Regions from separate parts of the Homo sapiens genome. Here region 1 is linked to region 2. The links come from fine-mapping of genetic effects on gene expression. A gene starts in region 2. The other region holds a variant in brackets. All regions are shown on one strand. Distances are between the middles of the regions. Region 1 overlaps UBE4B (ubiquitination factor E4B). Region 2 holds the start of KIF1B (kinesin family member 1B).

What was found.
Region 1: its variant is fine-mapped to the expression of KIF1B in activated naive CD4 T cells (Schmiedel 2018, PIP 0.92).

The regions. Positions count from the first base shown.
Region 1 is chr1:10,167,912-10,173,283 of GRCh38, forward strand. UBE4B (ubiquitination factor E4B) reads left to right here. Exons shown (of 28, transcript NM_001105562.3): 24 at 225-359; 25 at 3,227-3,418. Among named protein-coding and RNA genes, the nearest start is that of KIF1B, 40 kb to the right of the region's middle. RefSeq lists an enhancer at 2,633-2,682. The variant T/G (reference allele first, on the strand shown) is at 2,537.
Region 2 is chr1:10,207,437-10,212,808 of GRCh38, forward strand. KIF1B (kinesin family member 1B) reads left to right here and starts at 3,134. Exons shown (of 49, transcript NM_001365951.3): 1 at 3,134-3,442. RefSeq lists silencers at 2,355-2,649, 2,736-2,815, 2,846-3,365 and an enhancer at 4,267-4,922.

The DNA of each region.
Region 1 (5,372 bases), 40 kb before region 2:
AGGAAGCAGAGTTAAATAAGGCACCAACATCACCTGGCTGGAAGTCTCAAAGAGCTCCGATGCTGAAAGGATGAAACTTCAGTTATCTGGGACATGTGGCAGGCGGTTCTGTCATTCCCTAAGCATGTTGGGTTTATCACGCACTTTCCAGTTATGTGCTTGGCGCTTTGCTGAGCTGATGACCAGGACCGAGCCTTACTCAGCGTCTGTTCGATGTGTCCTAGGATCAGCAGCAGGCTCGTCAGTCTCAGCTTGCTCAGGATGAGCGTGTGTCCCGCTCTTACCTCGCCCTGGCCACCGAAACCGTGGACATGTTCCACATCCTCACGAAGCAGGTCCAGAAGCCCTTCCTCAGACCGGTGAGTAGAAACCCGGGGCTCTGTTTGGTGGTTTGGACTCCACATTCAGACTCTCTCACTTATAACTTTAGCAGTTGTTGAAGTTCTGGAAATTTTAGGATCACAGTCATCAATAAGTGAAATTCTGTGACTGATTTTGTTCCCAGTTATGCTAATTGATACCAGACTCTGTTGATGGACTGAAGAGCAGATGTCTGATGTCACCACATAGTCTACAGCCACTTCCAAATGCCTTACTGCACTTTGTGCTTAGACAGTACATTGGATTATTCATGTTGATGTCATGACATATTTTTACCATTATTGATTCCTATATTTTACTTATAGAAAAAGCATAAGGTGCCGGGTGCGGTGGCTCACGCCTGTAATCCCAGCACTTTGGGAGCCCAAGGCGGGCAGATCACGAGGTCAGGAGATGGAGACCATCCTGGCTAACACAGTGAAACCCCATCTCTACTAAAAGTACAAAAAATTAGCTGGGCGTGGTGGTGGGCACCTGTAGTCCCAGCTACTCAGGAGGCTGAGGCAGGAGAATGGCGTGAACCCGGGAGGCAGAGCTGGCAGTGAGCCGAGATGGTGCCACTGCACTCCAGCCTGGGCGACAGAGTGAGACTCCATCTCAAAAAAAAAAAAAAAAGAAGAAGAAAAAGCATAAGGTAACAGCTGTTGACAATGGAAGGATATTAAGTAGAATAATTGAGACCGTGTAAAATCTTTGGCTCTCTTAGCTGTACCTTTGTTACACTCAGGAAGCCAAAGGTTAATGGGAGCCGGCCATCACTAGGGTTTATGGTGGATTGCAAATAGTCAGAATGTTTGTTCTCAACTAGTAAGACCTGGTTCCTATTTCTAAAATTGAAACTGAGCAGCATCACTGAAGATTTCTGCCCTGCTTCAGCCACCCCCACCACAAAGTTGAAAAGTTTTATGGTGTGGCCAGGACAAGGGTAGTGAGGAAGGCAAGACGGGGACCTAAGATTCGGTAGCCATTTGCCTATGTGGAGACATGTTTACTTTACAATGGAATATGACGTTACTGCATATTTCCCCTGATTTTCTGTATTTGCTCTTACCTTCGTTATGTGACTCTCTGTTATGTGACTCCTGTCATCAGCAGAGGCACTATTGCCACTCCCTGGCCTGGGGACAACTCTTTTCCACTCTTTTAACTTTCCACCTCATGTCTCTTCATAAACAGATTTCAGTGCAAGAGCCATGGAACACGAAACAAAACAGCTCAGACACTGGCCTCCCTTAAAAGTTTGCAAAGTGCAAGGCCATGGAGCATGAAACAAAACAGCTCACTGGCCAGACACTGGCCTCCCTTCAAGGTTTGCAGAATTCTGTGAAGGCCAGATAGTAAATAGTTGATTAATTCCTTTGTAACAAGGTCAACACCCACCTATTTTGTACACTTGTTGGGAAGACTAAGCGAAAACACACATAGAAGTACCTGGCATAAGGCCAAGCACGGTGGCTCATGCCTGTAATCCCAGCACTTTGAGAGGCCAAGAAGGGTGGATCACCTGAGGTCAGGAGTTCCAGACCAGCCTGGCCAACATGGCGAAACCCCGTCTCTACTAAAAATACAAAAATTAGCCAGGCGTGGTAGTGCATGCCTGTAATCCCAGCTACTTGGGAAGCTGTGGCAGGAGAATCACTTGAACCCAAAAGGCAGAGGTCGCAGTGAGCCGAGATCACGCCACTCCAACCTGGGTAACAGAGCAAGACTCTTCTCAAAAATAAATAAATAAATTTATTTTAAGGCCTGCTCATAGACCTGAGCCATCTGTACACTGTAGCCCTGTTCTTTTGGCCCCAGCCTGTGCCTGTGCCTGCTGTGATGTTTTCATTTCCTTTGCTACACTATTTACTATCTGGCCTTTGCAGACAAAGTGTAAAGGCATTTCATTTTGCAAACCTTTAAGGTTTGCATTTTCACCTTCTTTACTGACTAGCTCAGATCTCTCCTACTTCAAACAGAATGACCAACTCTGTCCTGTTATGACTCTTTTATTTCACAGCTTCTCAACAGTGAAATACAGGAGTACTCTGTGCAAAAGCAAATTCTTGAAAAGCTAAGTATATGTTGAATTTGTATAAATCCAGTTATTACATTTCATGAAAACCTTGTGACTTAAAGGAATGCTTTCGTGACTCCCTTTTATGGCCAGTGT[T/G]TAATGCTCTCTAAGCCACATCTTCCTGTTTCAGGTTTGCTTAAAACCATGTATGCCCAACCGTAGTGGGTACTGAGTCACCTTGTGAGATTACAGCATAGATTATTACTATTTTCCAGGTGTTTCATTTAAGTTTACTCTGTCTCATTGACTAGATTTAAAACTATTCAAGGCATAACTTTTATCTTCTTTCCTTGCATTACTTTGTTATTTGTATCTGATAAGTACATAAGAATGACACAGACTGAACTGCCAGGGGCTTTTAACATTTATGGGGAAAAAAGTTTATGAAATACTGGCTGGAAGAGCTGACTCAAAACTTTTTTTGCTCAGATAATGGTAAGATTTGTATAATTTTCTCTCTTTTACTTGTTTCTCAATGAATTTGGAGTGATACTTTTTTTAATTAAAAGCATAAATGTAAAGAAAAGTTTGGCTTCTTTTGGTATTTATAAATAAATATTTCATCAGCCTGCAACATTCCATTAAGTATTAGAATTATCAGATCAGAAATGGGGAGTAAAGTTGAAATATAATGTTGTCTTTCTTCAGCTTATGATACACAGCACCTGTAAGGATTCTTTGAAGATTAATCCAACCAATTCCTGTTCCTCCACTGAAATGGGAGTTTTTGGTCCTTTTCACTTGTCTCAACAGCATGAATTGTCCTATTATCCTGTGATTTCCTAGGAGCTTGGACCCCGATTGGCTGCAATGCTGAACTTTAATCTTCAGCAACTTTGTGGCCCCAAGTGCCGTGACCTGAAAGTTGAAAACCCTGAGAAATACGGCTTTGAACCAAAGAAGCTGTTGGACCAACTGACGGATATTTACTTACAGCTGGACTGTGCTCGGTTCGCGAAAGCCATTGCTGACGACCAGGTCAGTGAGTTGAGTTGGTCTCTCTGTGAGTTTACTGGCAGATTTGGAGATAATAACCACAGTGGCCAGGGAACTCGTCTGGTGTAAATGAAGATGAGTGGGTTGTTTTCCTTTGAGTGTGAAGAGCAGATTTGGGCTGGGCGCGGTGGCTCAGGCCTGTAATCCCAACATTCTGGGAGGCCAAGGCAGGGGGATTGCTTGAGGCCAGACTGCAGTGAGCCGTGATTGCACCACCACACTCCAGAATGGGTGAGAGAGTGAGATCCTGTCTCAAAAACACGGTGGCTCACGCCTGTAATCCCAACACTTTGGGAGGTCGAGGCGGGCAGATCAAGAGGTCAGGAGTTTGAGACCAGCCTGGCTAACATGGTGAAACCCCATCTCTACTAAAGATACAAAAAATTACCTCAGTGTGGTGGTGCATGCCTGTAATCACAGCTACTCGGGAGGCTGAGGCAGGAGAATCGCTTGAACCCAGGAGGCAGAGGTTTCAGTGAGCTGAGATTGTGCCACTGCACTCCAGCCTGGGCAACAGGGTGAGACTCTGTCTCAAAATAAATAAATAAGTAAGTAAGTAAGTAAAAAACAAAAGTAAAGAGCAGGTTTGGCGCTCTGAGCCCTCTCCAGTTGAGTTCTTACCCCATCTTTTTAAGGGCCTTCTTGACAAATCCATTACATTTCTGAAAAGAGCCCGGTTTCTCAAGGGATCAGAATCTTCTTTCCTAGTCTCCTGCTAGAGTGCTGTTATTTTTGGGGTTGTCCAGATTAAAAATCTTGTGTGGTTTTCTTTACATTCTTCCCTCTCCTTTATTCCGTGGGTCTCCTGTGAGCAGATCTGTCTGTGTGTGCTTCATTTCCACAGCCACCGATTTAGGCTAAGCTGTCCCTGCGTGATCTTCTAGTCATCCCATAAAGGGCTGGCCCCCTCCATGGTCCGTTCTGCCTCATTTTCAACGTCCTCACAGCTAATGTTTATTAACTGTACACCTCATTTCACCCACTTTTCGTATCTCCACCCATTTAGTCCTCACAAAATCCTTTGAGGTAGGTTCTGTAAAGTCTTTGTTTTAAAGTGAGGAAAGAGGCACAGAGAGGTTAAATAGCTTGCTCGAGGTCACAGAGTTAGTGTGGGACAGAGGCATGATCCATGTCCAGGCAGCCTGGCCTTGAACCCATATCCTCAGTCTCTCTGCTGTCCACTTAAAATGCCCACAAAGAACCATGCTTGTCTCTGTGTCTCTGTCTTTGTTCACACTACTTATCCAAATACTATTCATGGCTCAAGTTAATCATCAGTAGGCATTCTAGAAGGTTCTTTACCCATATCTCATCCAAAGGAGTAATATTACAATAGAAGCATTGTAGGTACTTTTTTTTAATGACAGCTTTATTGAGCTATAACTCACATATGTAGGTGCTTTCTGATGTAGCAGGGGAAGTGGTCTTAACAAAGGATTTGCAGTGAAAAAATACATAGTCATGTGCTGTTTCTGTCGATGCTGGACCACAAAGACCATGTGGCCCCATCATATTATAATACCGTATTTTCACTGTACCTTTTCTGTGTTTAGAATACTCACCATTGTGTTACAACTGCCGACAGGATTCAGTACAGTCCCACACTGTACAGTTTTGTAGCCTAGGAGCAATAGGCTATACCATAGAGCCTCGACGTGGTGTAGGCCACGCCATCTAGGTTTGTGTAAGTAAATTCTATGATGTTTACACAGCAACGAAATTGCCTAACAAGACATTTCTCAGAGCGACACATGACTGTGTGTCTAAAGCAGTTTTATCATACAAAGTAGTGGCTCGTAAGAGGGTTAGGAAATTTTAGTTACTTGTAGATGTTAAAATATATACTGCTGGCCGAGCGCGGTGGCTCATGCCTGTAATCCCAGCACTTTGGGAGGCCGAGGCGGGTGGATCACAAGGTCAGGAGATCACGACCATC
Region 2 (5,372 bases):
GGCTACTTTTTTTTTTTTTTTTGTATTTTTTGTAGAGATAGGGTCTCGTTATGTTGCCTAGGCTTGTCTCAAACTCCTAGGCTCAAGCGATCAGCCTACTCTGCCTCCCAAAGTACTGGGATTACAGGCGTGGGCCACAGCACCTGGCCGGGAAGACTTGATTTTTTAAAAAGATCCCATTAAAAATAGCAATAAAGGCCAGGCTCAGTGGCTCACACCTGTAGTCCCAGCACTTTGGGAGGCTGAGGTTGATGGATCACTGGAGTCCAGGAGCTGGATACCAGCCGTCTCTACAAAAAATAGAAAAATTAGCTGGGCGTGGTGGTGTGTGCCTATAGTGCCACCTACTCAGGAGGCTGAGGTGGGAGGATGGATTAAACCAGGGGGCAAGGGTTGAGGCTGTAGTAAGCTGTGATCACACCACTGCACTCCAGCCTGGGTGACAGAGTGAGACCCTGTCTAAAATAATAGTAATAATAAAGTCTTCCTATCAAAAAGGAACACTTCGGATTTTTGTGTATTGATTTTGTATCCAGAAACCTGATTGTGATTGTGATTGTGATGGGAGAGTGGCAGTGCACCACGTGACTAGGACTTCTGATGTTCTCGTATCCTTGCATTCCAGAGACAGCCCTACCAGATCATGGCTACATTCAATTTTCTAGTAATTTATTTATCATTTTAAAGAGATGCTTTTATACAGAATTTGTAATCTGAGAAACTGGCTGGGCAGTGTGACTTCATCTGTCAGAGAGGCAAAAGGCTTATGCAGAGTGGGCTGTTTGGCCTTGGATCCTGGAGCAGCCTTCTTTGCCTTTATTGACCCTTCTGTGCCTTCTGTGTGCCCTTTGGCTAGCTTCTTCTCCTGCCAATCACAATCACACCCTCTTCACTACGTTTTTGTTTTAAATTTTATTTTATTTTTTGTTGAGACAGAGTCTCACTCTATCTCCCAGGCTGGAGTTCAGTGGTAGGATCTCAGCTCACTGCAACTGCCGCCTCGTCCACCTCCCGGGTTCAAGTGATTCTCCTGCCTCAGGTTCCCAAGTAGCTGGTATTACAGGCGTGCCCACCACGCCTGGCTAATTTTTGTATTTTTTAGTAGAGATGGGGTTTTGCCATGTTGGTCAGGCTGGTCTCGAACTCCTGACCTCAAGTGATCCACCCGCCTCAGCCTCCCAAAGTGTTGGGATTACTGTCGTGAGCCACCGCGCCTGGTTCTTCACTACGTTTTAGATTCTTTTTAGATTGTGCTCCATTGAGAGCTCAAGCAATACAGCCACCCAGGTTTTCGTAACTCTCCATGGCGCTCACCACAGTATTTACGCAAGGAGGTCCACGCTATGATGAAGTGGTGTCTACTGTTGAATTGATGAGTTCCTCTTTATTAACCTACTATAGTTTCATTTTACTCTTAGCCGTCAGGAAGCTAAGAGCTGAGTTCTGTGCTCAGTGGCAACATATTTCCTTGACTATGGATTTTTAAAATATTGTTTTTCTGGCCGGGCGCGGTGGCTCATTCCTGTAATCCCAGCACTTTGAGAGGCTGAGACAGGTGGATCACCTGAGGTCAGGAGTTCAAGACCAACCTGACCAACATAGTGAAACACCGTCTCTACTAAAAATACAAAAATTAGCCGGGCGTGGTGGCAGGCACCTGTAATCCCAGCTACTCGGGAGGCTGAGGCAGGAGAATCGCTTGAACCTGGGAGGCGGAGGTTGCAGAGATTTGACATCGTGCCACTGAGCTCAGCCTGGGCGAGAGTAAAACTCTGTCTCAAAACAAAACAAAAAAATTTTTCTTTCTAGGCATGCCTCTCATTCAAACAGCTTTTAAAAAGTCTCTTGCTTGTTTCATTATTATGAATTTTACGCCTATTTTAAAGCTATACGGTTTCACTGCTGTATGCTTTAGTGTAAGCTATGTCAAATCCTTTTGCAGGTAGGTGGAGCTTAAATTCTATAAAATGAGACGTGATCAATAAAAGCGGATGAAGAGTCTGAGGACTTGAGTGGTGGTGGAGATTTTCCAGAATTATTAGTGTAGAAAATTAATTTCGATGTTTTAGTGCATATGCTTGTACATAATACCTTTTACTCACAATAATACTGTATTTAATTCAGGGGAAGACATGTGATTTTACTTTCAATGTCTGCTAGTAAATAAAAATAATTCACAACCTTATAAAGTAATAGTGCTCGGCCTGGGCCTGATAATTGAATATATTATCACTGAAGATTATATTTTGTTAAGTACTGAATTGAACAGTTTCTGAACAGTGAGATTTTTCTTTCCAGCTGAATCTAAATCTGATTTTAAAGAAATCACTGCTCGTGCTTTTGTGTCCTCCGGGTTTCTAACTTCCACTCTCCCTCCTTCAAGGGCATCTCCCAGAAGGGGGCTGGGCTCGTTAACTCAGGGACGGTGCAAAGCGTTTGTTCCTCTCCTCACAGCCCTTCCGCGGTCTCCCAAGGAGACAAGTGGAATGCCCACCAAGTCATGCTTTTCCATTACTCATTCCGCCTTCTCTCCCGAGGTGGCGCGTGGGAGGTGTTTTGCTCGGGTTCTGTAAGAATAGGCCAGGCAGCTTCCCGCGGGATGCGCTCATCCCCTCTCGGGGTTCCGCTCCCACCGCGCCGCGTTCGGCCGGTTCCGCCTGCGAGATGTTTTCCGACGGACAATGATTCCACTCTCGGCGCCTCCCATGTTGATCCCAGCTCCTCTGCGGGCGTCAGGACCCCTGGGCCCCGCCCCGCTCCACTCAGTCAATCTTTTGTCCCCGTATAAGGCGGATTATCGGGGTGGCTGGGGGCGGCTGATTCCGACGAATGCCCTTGGGGGTCACCCGGGAGGGAACTCCGGGCTCCGGCTTTGGCCAGCCCGCACCCCTGGTTGAGCCGGCCCGAGGGCCACCAGGGGGCGCTCGATGTTCCTGCAGCCCCCCGCAGCAGCCCCACTCCCCGGCTCACCCTACGATTGGCTGGCCGCCCCGAGCTCTGTGCTGTGATTGGTCACAGCCCGTGTCCGTCGCGGGCGCCGGGGCGGATACGAGGTGACGCGCAGAGGCCCAGCTCGGGGCGGTGTCCCGCGCCGGCGACTGCGGGCGGAGTTTCGCGAGGGCCGAAGCGGGGCAGTGTGACGGCAGCGGTCCTGGGAGGCGCCCGCGCGCGTCGGAGCAGCTCCCCGTCCTCCGCAGCCGTCACCGCCGGCCGTCGCCGCGCCCTGGCCTCCCGCACTCGCGCACTCCTGTCCGCCGCCCACCGCCCACCTCCCACCTCGATGCGGTGCCGGGCTGCTGCGTGATGGGGCTGCGGAGCGGCGCCCTGCGGCTCGCGGCGGCCGCTGCTCGCGCTGAGGTGCGTCGGTGCCCGGCCCCCCGCGCCCCCGCGCGCCGCGGCTCCTGTTGACCCGGTCCGCCCGTCGGTCTGCAGCGCGGCTGAGGTAAGGCGGCGGGGCTGGCCGCGGTTGGCGCCGCGGTCGCGGGGTTGGGGAGGGGGCCGCTTCCGCGGGGAGGAGCGGCCGGGCCGGGGTCCGGGCGGGGTCTGAGGGGAGGTAGCGCGGGACGGGCGCCGGGTGCGGGAGCCTCGCCCTCGGGGGAGGGGACCCCTCCCTAGGCCAGCAGCGAGTCCCGGGCCGGCGTCCAGCGGTCGGCTGGGGCCCCCGCAGTGCCCTGCACCGGCCCTCCGTTTCCCCCGCGCTGCCAGGCCCCGGCTGTGCCCAGCGCTCTCCAGACCCGCCGCTGCCTGGCCGTTCCCTGGGCTCCGCGCACGTTGCAGCCCGGGGGGCGGCTGTGCTTCGTTTGAAGCCATCGTTTCTCATTTTCCCTCTCCCCTTTCCTCCTTTGTGGTGGGCATCGGGCTTCGGCTGGGAATGTGGTTATGCCCTTTGCCAGATGGCGATAGGAAAGGTCATCGCTTGGCGCTGGGGGAGCCGAGGGCTCGAGGCCTGGAAAGAGGGGTGCGATAGGAAGGGAGGGGGCTTGTTGGATGCTGGCCAGGTGTGAGGAAGGCTGGTGTGGTCTCGGCATTCAGCCGACTGGGATTACTCGGGCAGCCATATTGGGAGGATGATCTGACAAATCCTTTAGGAGCCAAGTCCAGTTGTTGGAAGGCACCGAGTGACAGCCCTGGCAGCTTTCAGGGTGACTGGCCAGACCAGAAGCCAAGTTGTGGGGGTTGGGAGGCTGCTTGAGCAAGCTAGTCATTGTTCATGCAACACAAAACATTCCCGCCCCTAACGCCAGAATGGAGCTTCCAGATCCCTTTTTTTTTTTTTCCTTGATTGCTAAATGAGCTTCCAAGGTAAACTGCCTTCAAGATTCCATTCTTGTTGGGGTGAAATTCCGTGTTTCTCTATTCATCTTCTGCGTCCAGTGCGGGGGCTGTGAAAGGCCTGCTGATGCTTTACATGTGCATAGGCCGATCTGAGAATTGCTAAGGCCACTGTATCAGTATGGAGGCCTCGAGTAGCCGTAGAGCATTGGATGGATAGATTTTCAGAGTCGCTCGACTTGCAGAGAAGAAGTAAACCAGAGTATTCTGATAGTGGGCGAGGCTAGTGGCGGCATTTCTGAGGACGCAGGCTGTCATCTTTGTGGAATCTCGAGGTAGCTGAAATTAGATTGTCAACAGATCCCTTGCTCATATCTCTTACTGCTCTGAGCAGCTGTTCTGCCACCATTGAACATTCCGCTTTGTGTCATGATGTGCCTGTCTGAGCCTGATGAAAGTGTGCTGATGAGATTTGAATAACTCTTAAGAGGTGATATCATGGTGGATATTTTATTTAAAGGCTGGCATTTTGTCTCCTTAGTTTAGTCATAACAAAATCTAGTTCTTGTGTTCCTCTAAGAAGTGAGGTGGTGCTTTCTGATTAAGTTGATATGGTTGCTGGATTATAGAGCAAGTGTTGTTAATGTATTGTTTGAAGGTGGAATATGAGAATTACACATAGGTTGGTATTGTAAAGCAGGTCTGGAGATGATCAATAACTGGGTTCAGCATGAGTCTGTAGATCTGTTCTTTTCTATATCCTAGATGTGGACAGGACCTGGAGAGATGGCATGCCTGCTTTCTTCTTTGTGGCCTTTGCTTTCATTCAAGTTCAATTTGTTCATAAATACATTCTCATAACTTCTCAGGTTGAACTATGTAAAAAATTTTGGGATGGGTGTGGTGGCTCATGCCTTGTAATCCCAACACTTTGGGAGGCTGAGACAGGAGGATCCCTTGAGCTCAGGAGTTCGAGACCACCCTGGGCAACAGAGTGGGACTCTGTCTCTACAAAAATAAATGAATAAATAAATACCTGGGCATGGTGGCTCATGCCTGTATTCCCAGCTATTTGGGAGACTGAGGTGGGAGGATTGCTT